2 separate regions of the Homo sapiens genome follow, and region 2 is linked to region 1. A link means that fine-mapping ties the variant in region 1 to the expression of a gene that starts in the linked region. Tissue or cell type: whole blood. Region 1 holds a variant in brackets; the other region holds the start of a gene. All regions are shown on one strand. Distances are between the middles of the regions.

Region 1 (8,187 bases):
GAACCCCATCAAGGGGTAGTGTCCACAGAAGCAGCAGGTGCATGTTTGTGTCTTATATGAAGGGAAAGGCCAGAGGTCAGAGCAGGAGAGTAAAGGGCTGGGAGATGGAGAGTGCAGGTGAGTGAGTGTGGATTGGGGACATGGAGGTCATTGTTTACCAGCATGCAGAGGTGGAACCTGGGAGGGTTTCTTTTTTATCCATGTTAGTATTGTCATCCCATTCCATTTGATGCAAGGCTACCTCTTCCTGGTTCCGTGCTATCAGTTAAAACATAGTCTCTCCCCTGTTTCCAGCTCTTCATCTCATGGCACTATCCCTACAGCAAAAGCTCGAAGTCCCCTGCTCTCTGAGGATACCAAGGCAAAGAAATGCCCATGAACTCTGATTCCTCTTAGAGGGTGCCAGGAATTTTGAAACAGATGTAATTCATCTTCTAAGGACTTCAACAAGTGTTGTTTGTTTCTTCCCCATTCAGCTGTTTGTAGTAGGCTTAGTTTGACAGCTGATTCAGGTTGTATTGAGATTGTCCCTCTCCCACTGGCAGGGCACTTTGCTAGTGCCACTGGCAGGTTGGCTAGTCAACACCTGCTCTGTGCTTGCCCTTGTTCTCAGAGCGCTAGGGACAGGAGAGCCTTACCGCTCACGTTCCTGTCTCAGAAAAGCAACGGATAATGATGTAGAATTCGTTTTTATAATGATGTATAGCCAGCAAATTCCCCAAACTCGCGTCACATCTTATTATAGAGACGTGCTTGCCTCTGGGGCGTCTCCTTGCAGGCCCATCTCAGGCGAGCAGCCAAACAAAGGAAGAGGCACGGAAGGCAGAGCGGCAGGAAGGAGGCTGTAAGGAAACGATGTGCACAATCGCCGCCTGGCAAGCTCACAGCCATCCCCGCAGTAAGCTTCCCCGGGATTTCCTGAAGGCCTCGATGGGGGCTTTGTAGCAAACTTTAGCTTTTTATACATCTCGGTAGCAATGAAAATAGAGCAACTGAGGTTGATTGATGGAGCTGAGTGGTGCCTATTATTCATCCCAAAGCTTTTGTTAGAAAGGGGAGGTGAAAATATCCTTAGCCCTAAGCGGTCCCTGCTTCTAGTTGAGACCCCAGCCCTATCTCTCTCTGGTTTGAAAAGTGCTTGGCTCCAGCACAAGGAGGTCGGTGGGAGAAACCAAGCGAAGGTCGTACCACTTTTTTTTTCCCCTTTATTTTATGTTAGTCATGGTAAGTGGCTGGATTTTTAAAACGATCCAAAAGCATGAAGTGGGAGCCTGAAGTATTCTTATTTGCATATTAATGCCAAGCCTGTGTTGCCAGCACCCAGTTATTTCAAAGGCTGTTGCCAAGAGCACAGCTTTGAAAGGCCTCAGCGCAGAGGCGGGCACCTGGGGCCTCTGCCCTAGGCTTCACCAAATGACAGCACACGGCTCCTTCTTTCTGCTGCTCTCTGGGCTTCCTGGGTGCAACAAACAACAGCTTCTCCAAGTGGCCAACTTCACCCATGCCTGTTCCCTCTCCACAAAGGTGAACAAATGCAGCGAACTGAGGCGCGGGAGATGGGCAGCGCTTTGGATATGGGGGCTATTTTTCTTGTATACCTTGGAGTATTTTTGATCAATTGGCTTTTTATTACGTTTATCATTGATCGACTGTGTTCTGGTTACTCCGGGTTATCCTAGACCTTAGCAATGGCTGGGCTGCGAGGATGGCGGTTTTCCATCAGACAGTGGAGTGGGGACCTGTCCTTTTATATGTTCAGTATTGTCATAGCACTACTGAACTAGGAGTATGTTGGCTTTAGGTTGTCCAAAACAGCTTGCCTACTAGATAATCCCAGTAATTTAACCAGGTTTCTTTCAAACCATGGTAGATTTTGGTCCATTTAAGTGAAACTTCTTAGAGGACGGACTTGTTCCTTTCCAATATGACCAAACAGGGGCTGCGGGACGCTTACTGGGATCCCAGGTATTTTGTGGGCATAGGGCGCCCCCTAGTGTCCAATTGAGAGCACTGAGCTTGCGTGCTCTAATCCTGGCAAAAAATTGAGCCCAGGTGCGGGAATAAGGAGAGGAATCTCAACTGATTTTCACTCATTCCCTGGGCCAGGGTGTTGCGGGGAGGGATGGAAGTGGGGAGGGGGAGCCCGCTCAGGAAGCAGCTTGTCCAGTCCCCTGGAAGCTGCATCCAGACCACAACCACTGGGAGGGAGAGTGATCTGTGTCCAGGACTTCTTTACCCACCGAATATTCAGAGGAGACCAAGTTCACGCAGTGGAAAGAGGTTGGATTTGGGAGTTAAAGAGACTAGGGTTCAACTCCTAACTTAGCCATTAACCAGTAGCGTGACCCTGCACTAAGCACTTAACCTTATTGATGGCGATAATTTCAAAATGGTGGCAGGAATAAGTGTTATTTCAGGGTGATAAGGAGAATCCTGTGAGAGTAAAGACAGCATCTGTGAAGTGCCTGCCACTCTCAGCAAACGTTAGACCCCTCTGCCTGTTGGCTGTCTCTCATCCGAAATCTGAAACTGCTTCCATGGGCTGTGTTCATGAATATGCCATGTCTGTCTATAAAAATATAGAGAGGATTTTTTTTGGTGTGTTTTTGGATGTTTTAATGGATTTTTCAAAGTAAATCTTAAGGTTTACCCTAAAATAGCTCATGCAACCATTTCCAGCTTAGATGTGGCCATTTGCTCTTTGACAATTACGAGAAACTGTTAGGCTGTAGCCTTGGAGCCTGGGCTGCCAATCGGGCCGAGTGAGGTGACTCACTAATAGGGGTCTACCTTCCCTGGGATGGCTGGCACAGAACCTCCAGACCAGGACAAGCCATGTCTTGCTTCTAGCTTCACTAAAAGTCGTGGATCAGTTTTCGCAGTGACCCACTCCAGTGTAATGTCAAAATGTTTTCCTAACAAATCTCAAAACCTTTTAGCTTTCAATTTTCTTTTCCTTTCAACTTCTTTGGGGCCACTTTTCTATTGCAGAAGAGTTGGGATTAATTAGAAAATACTCTTCTGTCTTCTATTTTTACTATGGAAGGAGAAAAGAGGGATTCTTGGTAACATAGGTAGCACAGGTAAATGTGGGCTTACCCAAAAAAAGAAAATAGTTGACAGACAGCTGCTTTTGCTGCAGGCTTAAATGCTTACAAGAAAGGGAAGTGAATTAGAACATGTGAATAGGTCATTTTGAAAAGTCGCTTTGTGTGTGGGAAGAGACAGGTTGATGGAGAGGCCCACAAGTGTCTGACAAGGCAGACAGCTGAGTCCCAGTTTAGTCCCCTGTGTACATATGCATCTGTGTGTCTTTGGGCACAACACTTACCTCTCTCACATCTCTATTTTTTCCATCTGTAAAATGAGGCATCATTGTGGCACTTACCACATAAGGTCGTTGAGAAGATTATATTAGATGATGCATATAGCACATATCTACATAAAATGTATCCAACAAAGGATATATCTTTCTGCTGTTATTCATTCACACTTTCTTTCTGTATGAACTTATTTTGGGTACATACTGTACCTTTTGCAAGCTTCCTTGGCAATTTACAGAAATGTAGGTGGTCTTACTTCACTTCCTGCTGAAATGAGAGAGCAATCGGTACTTTAACCATCTAGGGATAAGATATAGAGATGTTATGCAATCTCTACTTGGCTTTGAAAACAGAAGGCACTTAGGATCTGCTTGTCACCTAACTTGGAGCCAAATAAAATGCTAAGTGTAGGAAATATGTCAGTTCTCACAAGGGCAGGCCTCCTATCACATCCCTTCTCCATCAGACTGCTTCTGGGAGCTGAGAGGGCCTCCTAGGTGGGGTCCCCCTGTTTTTTTCTTAGTTTGGGTTTAAGTGGAGGCATTGGTAACCAACAGCCATGAGTCAGGTACCTCAGTCTTCCTCCAATGGTGTTTCTCATCATGCCCAGGCTGATTTGACACTAAAAAAGGACCAGGACCTCCTCACTATGTCACCTCCCTTTTAAAAAAAAATTCACAGTACCTTTGTCACAGTGTTCAGGTTGAGGGTGATAGCTCAGGTTCAAAACCTGACCACAGTATTTCCTGTGGTTTCTATTGCATTTCATTACACTGTGCTAGAAAAGTGCAAGGG[A/G]AAGTGCTGCTATCATTACCTTGCGGAAAAGCAAGTATTTCTGCAAGTTTATGGTAACACAGAAACAATCAATGCCAGATGCAAGCCGGGGATGGTGCATACCTATAGTCCCAGCTGCCTGCAAACTGAGGTGGCAGGATTACTTGAGCCTAGGAGTTAGAGACCAGCCTAAGCAACATAGCAAGAACCTGTCTCTAGAAAATAAAAAAACAGAAAACATCAGACGCAAATTCATCAAAGATTTGGTATGAGAACTTGTTCTTTCTCCAAAGTGATTGTGGTAATTATTTTTTATAATAATAGTTTTCATAGTTCAAAACTCTATATGACCAAGTGAATTGACTTCACTGATAAAAGATAAAACTTCTCATGGCTGTGACTTAGATATTCTAAAAACATACAACCACAGAGCCAGAAGGGCCCTTAGCGGCATCTGTTGCTGGTTGCTGCCTGCAGGAGGCTGTCTGAAGTAGAGGTTGGTGGTCCCAACTGCTATCCCTTAAGCTCTGAGATTCTGGATAAGTTTCATACCCTATCTGAGCTCTGCTCCTCTTCATAGTCTTGCAAGGTTGTTGTAGAAAGATTAAATGAGGTAACCACGCATGCAAAACAGTTAACACAGTTTAATTAACAATTAGCCAATGAACACACAATTAGTGCTGTTATTGAACAGTTGCTCAACATTTGGTAATAACCATTATCATCATCATTATCATCTTATTTCTACAACTTTACAGGGCTGAGGGTGTCATGCCCTTAGTTCTCTATTCTGGTCAGTCTCTGGGGTCAGATTTCCTGCTGTGTAACTGAACTCTCTTATCTTTCCCGCAATAGAGGAAGCCCATTTCTTCGTATCCAACTCTTGCTCTGTCCTGAATCTGACATAGTATTATTTAAGTCTCCTCACCTTTCAGGGCCTCTATTCCCTTTTCTTTGAAATTACCTGCTGGTAATTTCTTTGAAATTAGGAGGAGTGTTGGCGACCTGAAGGGCCTTGCAACTTTGCCACTATGTATAGTAACATCCTTCTGGTAACTGAAGGCATTGCCAGGCCAGGCTTCCATCTTGGGCCATTCCTCTGTAGCCATGGGTAGGACTCCCCACAATGGTGCTGAGAAAATGGTGATGAATGGATGTTTGTTGTGGTTGTTTTCCCCACAGGTCTCAGATCTCCTCTCATCATTCTGAGTGTTCTGCTGAGGATCTCTTCTCGTTACACCTAACTTATACAATAGGGAAGAACAAAAGTCAGAGTGTTGCTCTTGTCCTTGTCTTCGACCTTGGCCAATCCATTCAAATAACAGATCAAGGTGCGGGCCAACTTATAGCTAGGTTCTGCCATGAACCTAAGCTAATTTGAAAAAGTGCCAACAAAATGAATAATACTCATAGCTACAATACATTAAAAGCACTATGCTGTATTTGACATGCATTTACTTGTTTAATTCTTGTAACTGTCCAAGGTACACCCACCCCCATTATACAGATGAGAAAACTAAGAGAAATTAAGTAATATGCCAATGGTCAAGCCAATGCTAAGGGCAAAGATGGGTTTTGACCCCAGGAGCTCGATCCAAGAGTCTCTGTTCTTGACCACCTATGAGGCACTTCTAGACAGATTTCTCACCATTTTTTTAAAGTACTCATCCAGGAAAGATGCTCAGAGGCAAGAAGATGGGCTAGATGAACTCCTGAGGAGTGTTTCACTCCATCATGCTGCCAAGCCAATGCCATAGCCCCATCATCGCATGGCTCCATAATGAAGGATCACAGAGTGTGGGGCTTAAACAACAGAAAAATGTTGTCTCACACTCCTGGAAGCTAAAATTCAGAAATCAAGGTGTTGGCAGGTTGGTTCCTTTGAGGGCTGTGAGGGAAGGATCTGTTCCAGGCCTCTGTCCTTGGCTTGCAGATGGCTATCTTCTCATGCGTCTCTTCATGTTATCTTCCCCCTATGTGTCTGTGTCCAAATTTTCCTTTTTATAAGGGCATATGTCATATTGGATTAGGGTCCACACTAATGACCTCATTTTAACTTGATTACCTCTGTAAAGAGGCTGTCTCCAAATAAGGTCACATTCTGAGGTAGTAGGGGTTAGGACTCCAACATATATTTTTTGCTGGGGTGATATATTTCAACCCATAACAGCTCCCCTGTCATTTCAAGGTAATAATGAGTGTGATGACTCCATTTCCTCACAGCAGGGAAGTGGTTTACTTAACAGCGAACTGTCAAAGAGGTTTAGGTTTTAGAATCAGACAGGGCAACTTTGTTAATGCCTCATTTGCTACTTTTTGCAAATAGTCAAGTAAGTGGATCTCTGGTACTCATTTAAAAAACAGAACAGGTTTAAGAAATAAATAAAGGGAAAGTTTCAATCAATGTCTTACTTTTAGAAGCCTTGACTGCTGGTATCATGGAACTGACTCTTAGTAAATCAAACACTCTTCAGGAATTAGATCAGCAAAGGGAAGGTCATATTTTCTAAATAGTTGCCTGAAATAATTAATTAACTTTACTTAGAGGAGTAACTTACCTTCAGAATGATTTATTAATGGATTGGTGATTCCACTTATAAATGCTATTGTTGATAAATGGCATTACACTCATAAGAATTGCTTACAGTCAATACAATTATCTTTTTTCTTATTTTATCCAGGGTAAATATAATTGCTGCAATAAATTAGAGAGGAAACAAGAGCATAGGGAATATTAACTTCAAGATGTATTTAATGAAGGAATAACAGCATCGATATTGAATGACTTCATGTTGTGAAGTTGTCACAACCAAAATGGAGTCACTTGTGTTAAAAAAAAAAAAAAACCCTCACAAATAGAGCTATGAAGGCTGTGAAGAGAGAGTTCTCATGTTTGCATGCCTGATTTTAAAAAAGTCTAACATAAAAGACTGCAACAACCACAACCTTGCACAAAGGCCATCACAACCTTACACAAAAAATACTTCTGCAAAGACATCTTCCCAGGAACTGTCTGCCCAACCTCAGACTGGCAGACCTTGTTATTGATCACCCTTGTTATTGATCTTTGTAGCCAAAGGTAATCATTTCAAAATAATTATGTATCCTTCTCATTTTTTCCTTTAAAACTCCTTGTCTTTTTTTTTTTTTTTTTACCTCCCTGAATGCACACATAGTTTACTATGGCACCTGCATTCCCGTTGCAATGCCCTACTCCCAAATAAACATCATTTTCTTTTAGAGAGCCTGTCTGTATTTGTTACTTCGTTGACAATATGTTGGTTAAGTCAGGCACTGAAGAAGTAAAACTGATGGAATCATAGCCATCTATTGCCTAAGGAGGGCCAGATTTGAAAATGATGACTGTGAACATTATTTTTAGGATTCCTAGTCTTTTGTTCATTAAAATTTGAACGTTTTAGAGCAAGGTAGAGAAAATGTGGAGTCTAGCTATGCTACCGTTTGTGTAAAAAGTATGTGAAAAGGTTATCTATACATTGTCTATATATATGCATCTCAGCAATGACACAGGAGAAAGTCCTAGCTAGGGACCAGAGGCCTGGGAAGAGGAAGACTAAGATTTCACTGTATATTCTTTCCTAGTTTTGTTGTTCAATTTATACTGGATCCATTAATAACACCTGTTTTAAGAAGTGAGCACATGTTTCTGACAACTGCACCCCCACACAATTAAACTAGCTATGGATGCCCAGGTTGCAGGTTGCCCCAAGAATCCTTCCAGCCTCCTTTTCGCTGTGCTAATCCTCGGGGCTGCTTCTGGGCAAGATCTGAAATTTAGCTTTAGTTGATCTTGATGTGTATTCCCTCTCCTTTCAGCAGCTGCCTCCTTTCTCCTCATCAGAAGCTAAGGCGCTTCTTTCAAGTCTTGAAGAAATGAAATTCCAGGCCTCATGAAAACTGAAGCAAGAGATATTTGGCTTGTTACATCCCACGGTTTTAGTGATTAGAAAGGTTAGGTCTCTTTATGCTGGTATGTACCATATTTGAAGAAAGACCCTGTCCAGCCATAGAATCCTCAAATGTCATCCAAGTCAGCAAATGCAACCCCATATTGCTTGACTCCCTTCTC
Region 2 (8,187 bases), 37 kb after region 1:
CCTTGGTCCCAACAATTCAGAAACTCCAGGAACTGACCTGGTTGCTTGAGTTGTTTGCTTATCTGCTGTGTCTTCCAATTTATCGCACAACAAATTGCTTAATAGGGCGTAAATCTCTTGGCTCGAGGCAGTAGAGCAGTAGTTAGGAGCCCAGACCTCAGAAGCAAGCAGGCAGAGGTTCCATCCCAGTTTCACTATCATCAGAGGGCCCTCGGACAAATTAACTTTTCTTAGCCTCCATTTTCCTACCTGTAAAGTAGAAATACAACATCTACCTTGGAGAGTACTGGGTGAAGTGACCTAATGTCTGCCGTTACAGTAAGAACTTTGTTATCTTCATGGCAGGGTGAATCACTTTCACTTTATGAGGCAGTCTGCTCTATGTATTGCTCATATTTAGGCATTGATTCCTCTAACTGAGTAATTTTGATATTTTGGGCCAGGTAATTATTTGTTGTGGGGTCAGTCCTGTGCATTTAGCATGTTTAGTGGCATCTCTGGCCTCTACTCTCTAGTCAGCAGTAGCACCCCTCCCCAAGTTGTGAAAACCAAAAATGTCTCCAGATAATGCCAAATGTCCCCTGGAGGACAAAATATCCCCCAGTTTAGAACCACTGTTCTAGAACTTCCTAGTGTTGGGAGTCCAGAATATCATAGCACTAGAACTACTTTTCTGGAAACTTAGTCATTGGTTCCTTGGTAGTATCACATTGATGAGTTTCTTTTTTTAATGGCCTCATGGAAAAGTTGGGTTACTTATAAAAATTACTCATATCCTGCTGCTGCAAGCATTAATTTCCCTCTATATAAATATTTTAAAATGTCTTTTTGTCATCAGGAGGATAAGAGGCTGATATGGTTTGGCTCTGTGTCCTCACCCAAATCTCTTCATCCAATCACCTCCCATCTGTTCCCTCCCTCAAGGTTTACCCCATGCTGTTGACCCCCAGCTCCTCTGGGGGTACCCTTTGGTGGGTGGCCAACTGACCCTACAGAATTCAAAATATCCTCCTAGCAAATCTATGATTCTCAAGTTCCTGGTTGACCAAGTCAGGGAGGAATGATAATAACTGCTATGGTTCATTGAGTGCCTAACATGTTGTAGGCCGTTTCCTAGGATCTATAAATATTTATCTTATTTACACCTTACGACAAAATTATCTTCACTGTATAGAGGAGGAAACACATTCAGAAGCTCTGTTTAATTGGCTCCAGCTACAGTTGTAGTGGCAATTCCGGGACTGATACCCAGACCATTCTGTTCTACCACTGCAGTCTGTATTCCCACTCAACTCTGGGCTCTGCATATACTTCTCTACATTACCAGTTCCTTGTATGATACTTGGCATTATGTTGATGTTTAGTAAATGTTGTACAGCAAAGAAGGAAAAAAGGAAGGAAAGAAGGAAGTCTCCACTGTAGCTCCAGAGTTCTAGTGATAATTGGATTAATCTTTGAGACCTCTGAATCGCTGGGGCAAAAGGATGATAGCAATTATAATAATACATAATATTCACACTTCCAATTTTGATAACATTACAAAGTTTTGGGAAGTGTTTATGTAATATTTATCTCATGTAATTGTCAAGATATTTCTGGTGTAGAGTAGAGGTCATAACTATGGTCACTTGCCAGAGAGTGACCAGAACTAAAACTCTCTGAACTCTAAACTGTGTGAAAGAGAAGGAAGAACTGCAAAGAGATGAACACATTATCAGTCGACAGCAGGCACAAGAACACTTTATCAAACTTTCTCTACCATATCACAAAGATTCAAAAGAAACCAAGAAAGGAGAACTAGTTTTGTCTTTCATACACCATGCACAATGCTTTATAGTAACTGCCTGTCAGCAGCCAAAGGAAAATATTGCAACTCGAGCGCTCTCCTTGATCACTTCTGCTTTTCTTTTTCTTCCTGAGTTTGTTTTCCTAGTAAAAAAGTTAAAATAGGATTATTTAATTTCACTTCTCTTATTCACCTTCCTCTGTTTCTTAAAAATAAATGACACAGTTTAAAAAAAAGAACAGAAAATATCTCAATATTATTGTGAGGTATACTTTTTATAAGCAATGTAGAGTTCTTTCTAGATAGTTCCTCCCAGACCAGTTGATTTTATTTCCACATAACTTCATGAAGTGTTTCCTTTTAGAAAGCGATACCAAAGCTAGTCAACCACACTGTCAGGAGTTTGTAGAATCTTTATTTACTTCCAATGTGTTGCAATTGTGGCCCAAGTTGAATCAACAACTATGTTGTTTACCAAAATACATCAAATAGAAAACATTGAGCAATGATTTTCTAAAGTATTCTCTTTTTGGAGTTCTCTTGCATGGCTTTCTGAATACTGAAAGCCACTGAACATGTATGCCTCTTGTATATTTGAATATTGTAAACCCGGTTGACTTAACACAACATTCCTTTTTCATTTTTTCCTTTTCATTGAAGTAAAAAAAAACTGGTTTTTGTTTTGTTTTGTTTAAAAAAAAAAAAAAAACCCAGGTGGCTTTTAGAGATTTCTTCCACACTTAAAAAAAAATGAACACTGGAACCTATTGACATAAACTAAAAAATTATGTTTCTGTGAGAAATGTGTTCAAATGGTCCACCCAGAAATCTGAAAAAAAAATTTTTTAATGGCACCAAGGGACCCTACATTAAATGTGCTTGCATTAAGCAACGAATGCTTTTTTGAGAGTCTGACTGAAATAACAATTATAATAATTATTATGCTGCTGATGATATAGTTGAGTTGGTATTTATCGTCGTGGGAGGGTAAGTTCCCTTACTCAATGGATGAAGAAGCTCCTCCTCTGGTTAGTTACATTTGCCCTTGATTCCTGCTTCCCTGAGGGCAGGAGGTAATCCTTGGCAGCCAGACTGTGCTTTGGGTACTGGGACAGCGAGGCATGGAGTTCGTGTGTACTTCCACTACAGATTCACTCAGACAGCCTCCTCAGGATGTAGCTTCCCTCCCTCCTAGCAGAGGTGTACCAACTGCCTCAAATAGGGAAGATCTGCTGGATTTACATTTTGCATTTTTAGTTCTAAGGATAAAAGCATCTCTGATTTTCTTTTGCCTTCCTTCAAAACGTTTAAATTATAATTCACCATCACATCCCTAACTATTCATTAATTATCCCAAGTCCCTCCTAGGTTTATTATTTTGACAATGTTTCCTGACAGTATTAGCAGGTTACAAATTATTGTTAAAGCTATGATTACTTTATTTATGGTCACTGCATAACAATTGCTATCTGGGAAAGATTATATGTTGTGTACAGTTATCATTTGTAGTCACAAGGCTTTAAGGAAAGCTTAGAACATAGAACATATGTATAGGTTCCAAAAGTGTGTTTAAAACTTCAGTATATTTCAGCCACAGTGATCTTTGAGCAGAAGAAAAGGTCTGAGTTTTTTGTTGTTGTTGTTTTTTTTTTTTGAGACGGAGTCTCGCTCTGTCGCCCAGGCTGGAGTGCAGTGGCGTGATCTCAGCTCACTGCAAGCTCCACCTCCCGGGTTCACACCATTCTCCTGCCTCAGCCTCCCAAGTAGCTGGGACTACAGGCGCACGCTGCCACGCCTAGCTAATTTTTTGTATTTTTAGTAGAGACCAGGTTTCACCGTGTTAGCCAGGATGGTCTCGATCTCCTGACCTTGTGATCCGCCGGCCTCGGCCTCCCAAAGTGCTGGGATTACAGGCATGAGCCACCGCGCCCGGCCAGGTATGCGTTTTTAAACACTGTCCCTTAAGACAGTGACATTTGTTATAAGAGTTTTAACACCAGTTCCCATTTCCTACTCTTGAAATATATGAGTTAATGATTTTTTTGTGTGTACTTAAACATTGAAATTTGTTCTAAAATCTGAGCACCCTCTTTGAATATTAAAAATAGAATAGAAAGGTGGTATAACATTTAACTTTGATTTGATGCAGCGTGTAGCCAAGGAGATTTTTAGAGCAGTTAATATATGCCGAGGGATACTAGGATAAATAGTACAGAAGCACAATCTGTGCCCTTGGTCTAACAGTGTAGTGGGACATTTCAGAGCCATTTGTACAACTCTAACTTGATTGTTGATTTTAAAATGTATTTATTGAAGCACACCTCCTAAACATCAAGTCATTGCGAAAGGAGCCATATCATCATTTGAAAAACCAAACCACCGGATCATAAAATGGGGAGTAAATATCTAAAGCAGGCTTATTGCTGCCACCCCTGGATCCAGGGATCAAATATGAATTGTTGGGAATTTCCCTGCTTTTTTATGACCTACAAGGCATTTTTTCCCCTCAGTTTAGTGAATATGTGTGTGTATTCATGTAAACTTACATCTGATAATATTGATAAAGCGGACAGACAAACAGATCAGACCTGCAGTTGACAGAGAATCTGCTGCTTCAGTAAGAAACTCATCTAAGAATCCTGTGCTTTTTGGAGACTTCCCCCTCCAGTTTCCAATTAATCATAAGATTCACAGATAGTGTCAAGAAGGCACAGAGAAAATAAAATATGAATTGAATTGGGACACTAGGGTGCTAAAGGACATTCAAAGAGAGTCCTGGAGGAGTTCAAGGCAAGATCCCAGGTCACACCGAGGTCATTTCTATGGTGAGATGGACCCAGCTCCCATCACTGGGTTCTAATGTGTTACATTAAAAGAAGTAGCAACATTGACCACAGCTTGAAAGACCACCGATTCATTCTGCAAGAGTGAGGAAAATCAAAGAAAGTTTAGATTGACTTGATAAATAAAAGAATAAATGACAAAACTGTCATCAGTTACCTTATTAAAGATGAAGTGGGACACAGAAACTGTTGGTGGACTTGCTCAGCTGATGGCAGCTTTCCTGCTGTGCACGGGGAAGGAAGAGTTGTGCCACCCTGGCCAGGCTGATCCTCTTGAGGTCGAGGTGCCTGGGTTTCCGTAGAGCTCTGAGTACTACATGTGTGAGGAATCCTCAGGTTCTCTCCTTGCTCTGTGAGTCACTCCCATTGTGACACAACGTGATGACTAAATATCTCTTGAATAGCTCATAAAAGCCAAGAAGCTGTAGGTCGCATGTTTCAAAAGGAATCAGCAGTATAAATTTAGCTACTTTTAGAAGAGACTTTAAAATGATCAATAACATTCATTTTATGATTAGTACAATCTCTTGACCAAATTCAGCAGCAGAAATAATATAACAAAGAAATAAATATTTTGTAAACTGCCTGGTGCGTGGTTTTAATAGTTTTCAAATTGTGATTATTCTTCATAATCTCCATTTTTTCCTTCCTGTTAGCATGCCTTGGCTTATTTAACACTCCTTCCCTCCTAAGAGAATAAGTAGGAGAAATCAGTCTCTGAGATTGGTGTTACCATTTTTTTTAAGATGGGCGAGCAAGGAGATAAAAACAACATAATAAAATGAGGTTTTGGAATTACTTATGGGTCTTAATTTATGTTTTAAGGTATGACAAGGAGAGCTTACTAAAGTGGTCTCTGGAACTGAGACCGCTGAGAATAGGAAAGGATGCCTCCTCCCCTCCCAGAGTTTGTCTGTGTCAGAGTTGATCACAGTTGACCTGGCGTATCCTGGGACCACAGTGGAAAGTACTGAGGCCGCAGGCGAGGAGGGGAGGAGATGGTGCTAATCTAGCCTGCCACCCTTCACCTTCACCACTGTAGCCACTCAGGCAGGTACAAATACCACTTTGCTGATTTTTCATTTTCAGTTTCCTCGTATACCAGTTTGTTGCTATACTCTTCTGATTTCCCAGACTCTGTATTCCTCCTTTGAAAATTGCAGTTATTATGGTTCAACTGGAATGAGCACATGAATGAACATATCTGTCTAGGTAGAGTCAGGACACTGCTATCACCCTTTAAAATAAGTAGTGGTCTTTTTTCTTTAAAAGAACAACAAACCCACTTTGGGAGGCCAAAGCGGGCGGATCACTTGAGGTCAGAAGTTTGAGACTAGCCTGGCCAACATCGTGAAACCCCATCTCTACTAAAAATACAAAAAATTAGCCAGGCATGGTGGTGGGCACCTGTAATCCCAGCAACTTGGTAAGCTAAGACAGAATCTCTTGAATCTGGGAGGCCAAGTTGCGTGTGAGCCAAGATCGCGCCATTGCCCTCCAGCCTGGGTAACAGCGTGAGACTCCGTCTCAAAACAAACAAAAACAAACAAACAAACAAACTGAAATTTACTCAGGTTCACATTTAGGGTGCCCCAAATGTGCTAAATATGCTTTTTCCTCTTTAGCATTTCATAAGTATGGCTTAAATATAAAACCTCATAGACAATACATTGACTTAGAGCCACATGAAGTAAGGTATAAATAATTAATACTGAACCCTTCCTGTGAGCCTGTTATTGTCACTAAGAGGAGAAGAGAGCCTCATGCACCTGGGTGGTCATGCAGTGTTAACTGAAAAGGGCAAAGAAAAAGTTATAACAATAGTTAAAATTTTGCTACTTAATGAACTCGCCTAGTGCAGCCGTGTTTCAAAAACTTTCCAAATAGACTTAAAAAAAGTCAAATGTTTAGACTGATTTGCATATTGGAAATTAGAATTCTTGCCATCTATCTGGCTTGTCCCTCAATTCCTGTGGGCCCAACTCATGGGTTCAGTTTCAGTATATGGCACCACAGCCAGAACACCCCCTCTCCTTGTCCAATGGTCCCACATAGGCGATCAGTTAATGAAGTCATGTTAGCAGTGTCTTATCCAGACTGTAACCATATACACATTCAAATTCATATCTCAAGTGCCAAGTTGTCTTTCATTTCACCTCTTTAATATACAACCTTTGAAAGTGCTACTTTGTTCAGAACTCATCCTACATTGACTTCAGATCAAAGATCACATTAAAAAAAAAATCTGGAACCAAATTGCCATTTGAGTTTTTTCCTAGTTCCTTTTTAAAACAAAGGAGTGCACTGTGCATTTTATTTTAATGTTTGTAGGTGGAATGTAAGTATACAGTGGTAAGGCTAGATGCCACCACAGACAACACACTAAAGATAGAGTTATCCTTTTTCTTCTGAATCTGTATGCCTCCCATACTTCTACCCAAGAGTATCTTCTCCACCCCTTTCCAAATACCAAAACATAAGGAGGAAACTCAGATCTGAGGCTGTCTCAGGAGACATACGTTAGGCTTCCTGCAACTACACCATTCTGGGGATGGTCTAAGTCACAGATCATTCTAAGATGAGCTTCAACTGGAGGAAAGCACTTACTCCAGTGTGCAGGCTGTGGTGGGTCCAACTTCTGGAGTATATCCAGTGTCACTCTTGTAAGGCTGACCAGGAGGGTGAGGCTGGTGATAGAGCATGCACAGTGGCTTCTTCCTTCTGGCATAATGATGTAATCCTCTCTCTCAAGTCATTCTCAGTGGAACATGTTTCTCTGAACGACTATAAGCTGCTATGAAGACTTCATGTTTTAAAAGTGTACTTTATATTTTCTTCCTCCTCCCTTTGTCAACAGGGAGTTCTCTTATTTCTACTGTAAAGGGAACCTGTACTTTGGTTCCCTTTTTATACAAACAATGCCTTTGACATTTGAGTAGCTTCTTTGGCTAGGCTTGGTCAAAACCAGGAGCTTTGTTACCCATTTGGCCTTTCATGACTCTCCCAGCTGTAAGATGAAGCAGGGCTAATCTTTTGTTTTTCTCTACTATGCAATCTTTAGATATACAAATAGAGATGGAGTCATGGGAACATTTGATAGATTCTTTGAATAAAGATTTTTCTTATTTACAGAGCACATATCCTTTTAGCTTACCCAACAAGAGGTCCTGCGTTGAAAAGTGAAGTGAGAAGTATTATATGGGGAATTATTGTTCTGGTAGATGGAGCAAGAGAGAAGATAGGTGAGAATGAAAGTAACAAATGAACAGAAACACTGTGGATTTTCAGCAACTTGAAAGAAGGAAAGGTGAAGGCTAAGAAAATGTGTCTGTCACAGAGGGAGGGAGGTGGGTGCTCCTTCTGGTATGACCATCACATGTTCACATGTGAGCATTAAAAATTTTTTTCCTGGCTTAAGAATGATCTTCCTGCCAAGTTTCCTAGTTTCTTTCAATCCCTTTCAAAAAGAAGGCAACTTCTTTTTCCCAGAATCTTAACTGAGATGATAAAATATCAAATGAAATTAAGAGCAGATGCTAGATGCAGCTGATTGTGTAA

Which allele goes with the higher level. Alleles are on the strand shown, and positions count from the first base shown. SD is a standard deviation of normalised expression in the study named.
For the expression in whole blood of the gene that starts at base 4,941 in region 2, allele A in region 1 goes with a lower level than allele G (moderate effect, 0.55 SD a copy in Lepik 2017).

The links. PIP is the estimated chance that this variant, and not a neighbour inherited with it, causes the effect.
Region 2: DHRS9 starts here. The variant in region 1 is fine-mapped to the expression of DHRS9 in whole blood (TOPMed, PIP above 0.99).

Annotation. Positions count from the first base shown.
Region 1 is chr2:169,103,754-169,111,940 of GRCh38, reverse strand. No RefSeq gene overlaps it. Among named protein-coding and RNA genes, the nearest start is that of DHRS9, 38 kb to the right of the region's middle. RefSeq lists enhancers at 916-1,416, 1,417-1,917. The variant A/G (reference allele first, on the strand shown) is at 4,119.
Region 2 is chr2:169,066,317-169,074,503 of GRCh38, reverse strand. DHRS9 (dehydrogenase/reductase 9) reads right to left here and starts at 4,941. Exons shown (of 5, transcript NM_001376924.1): 1 at 4,787-4,941.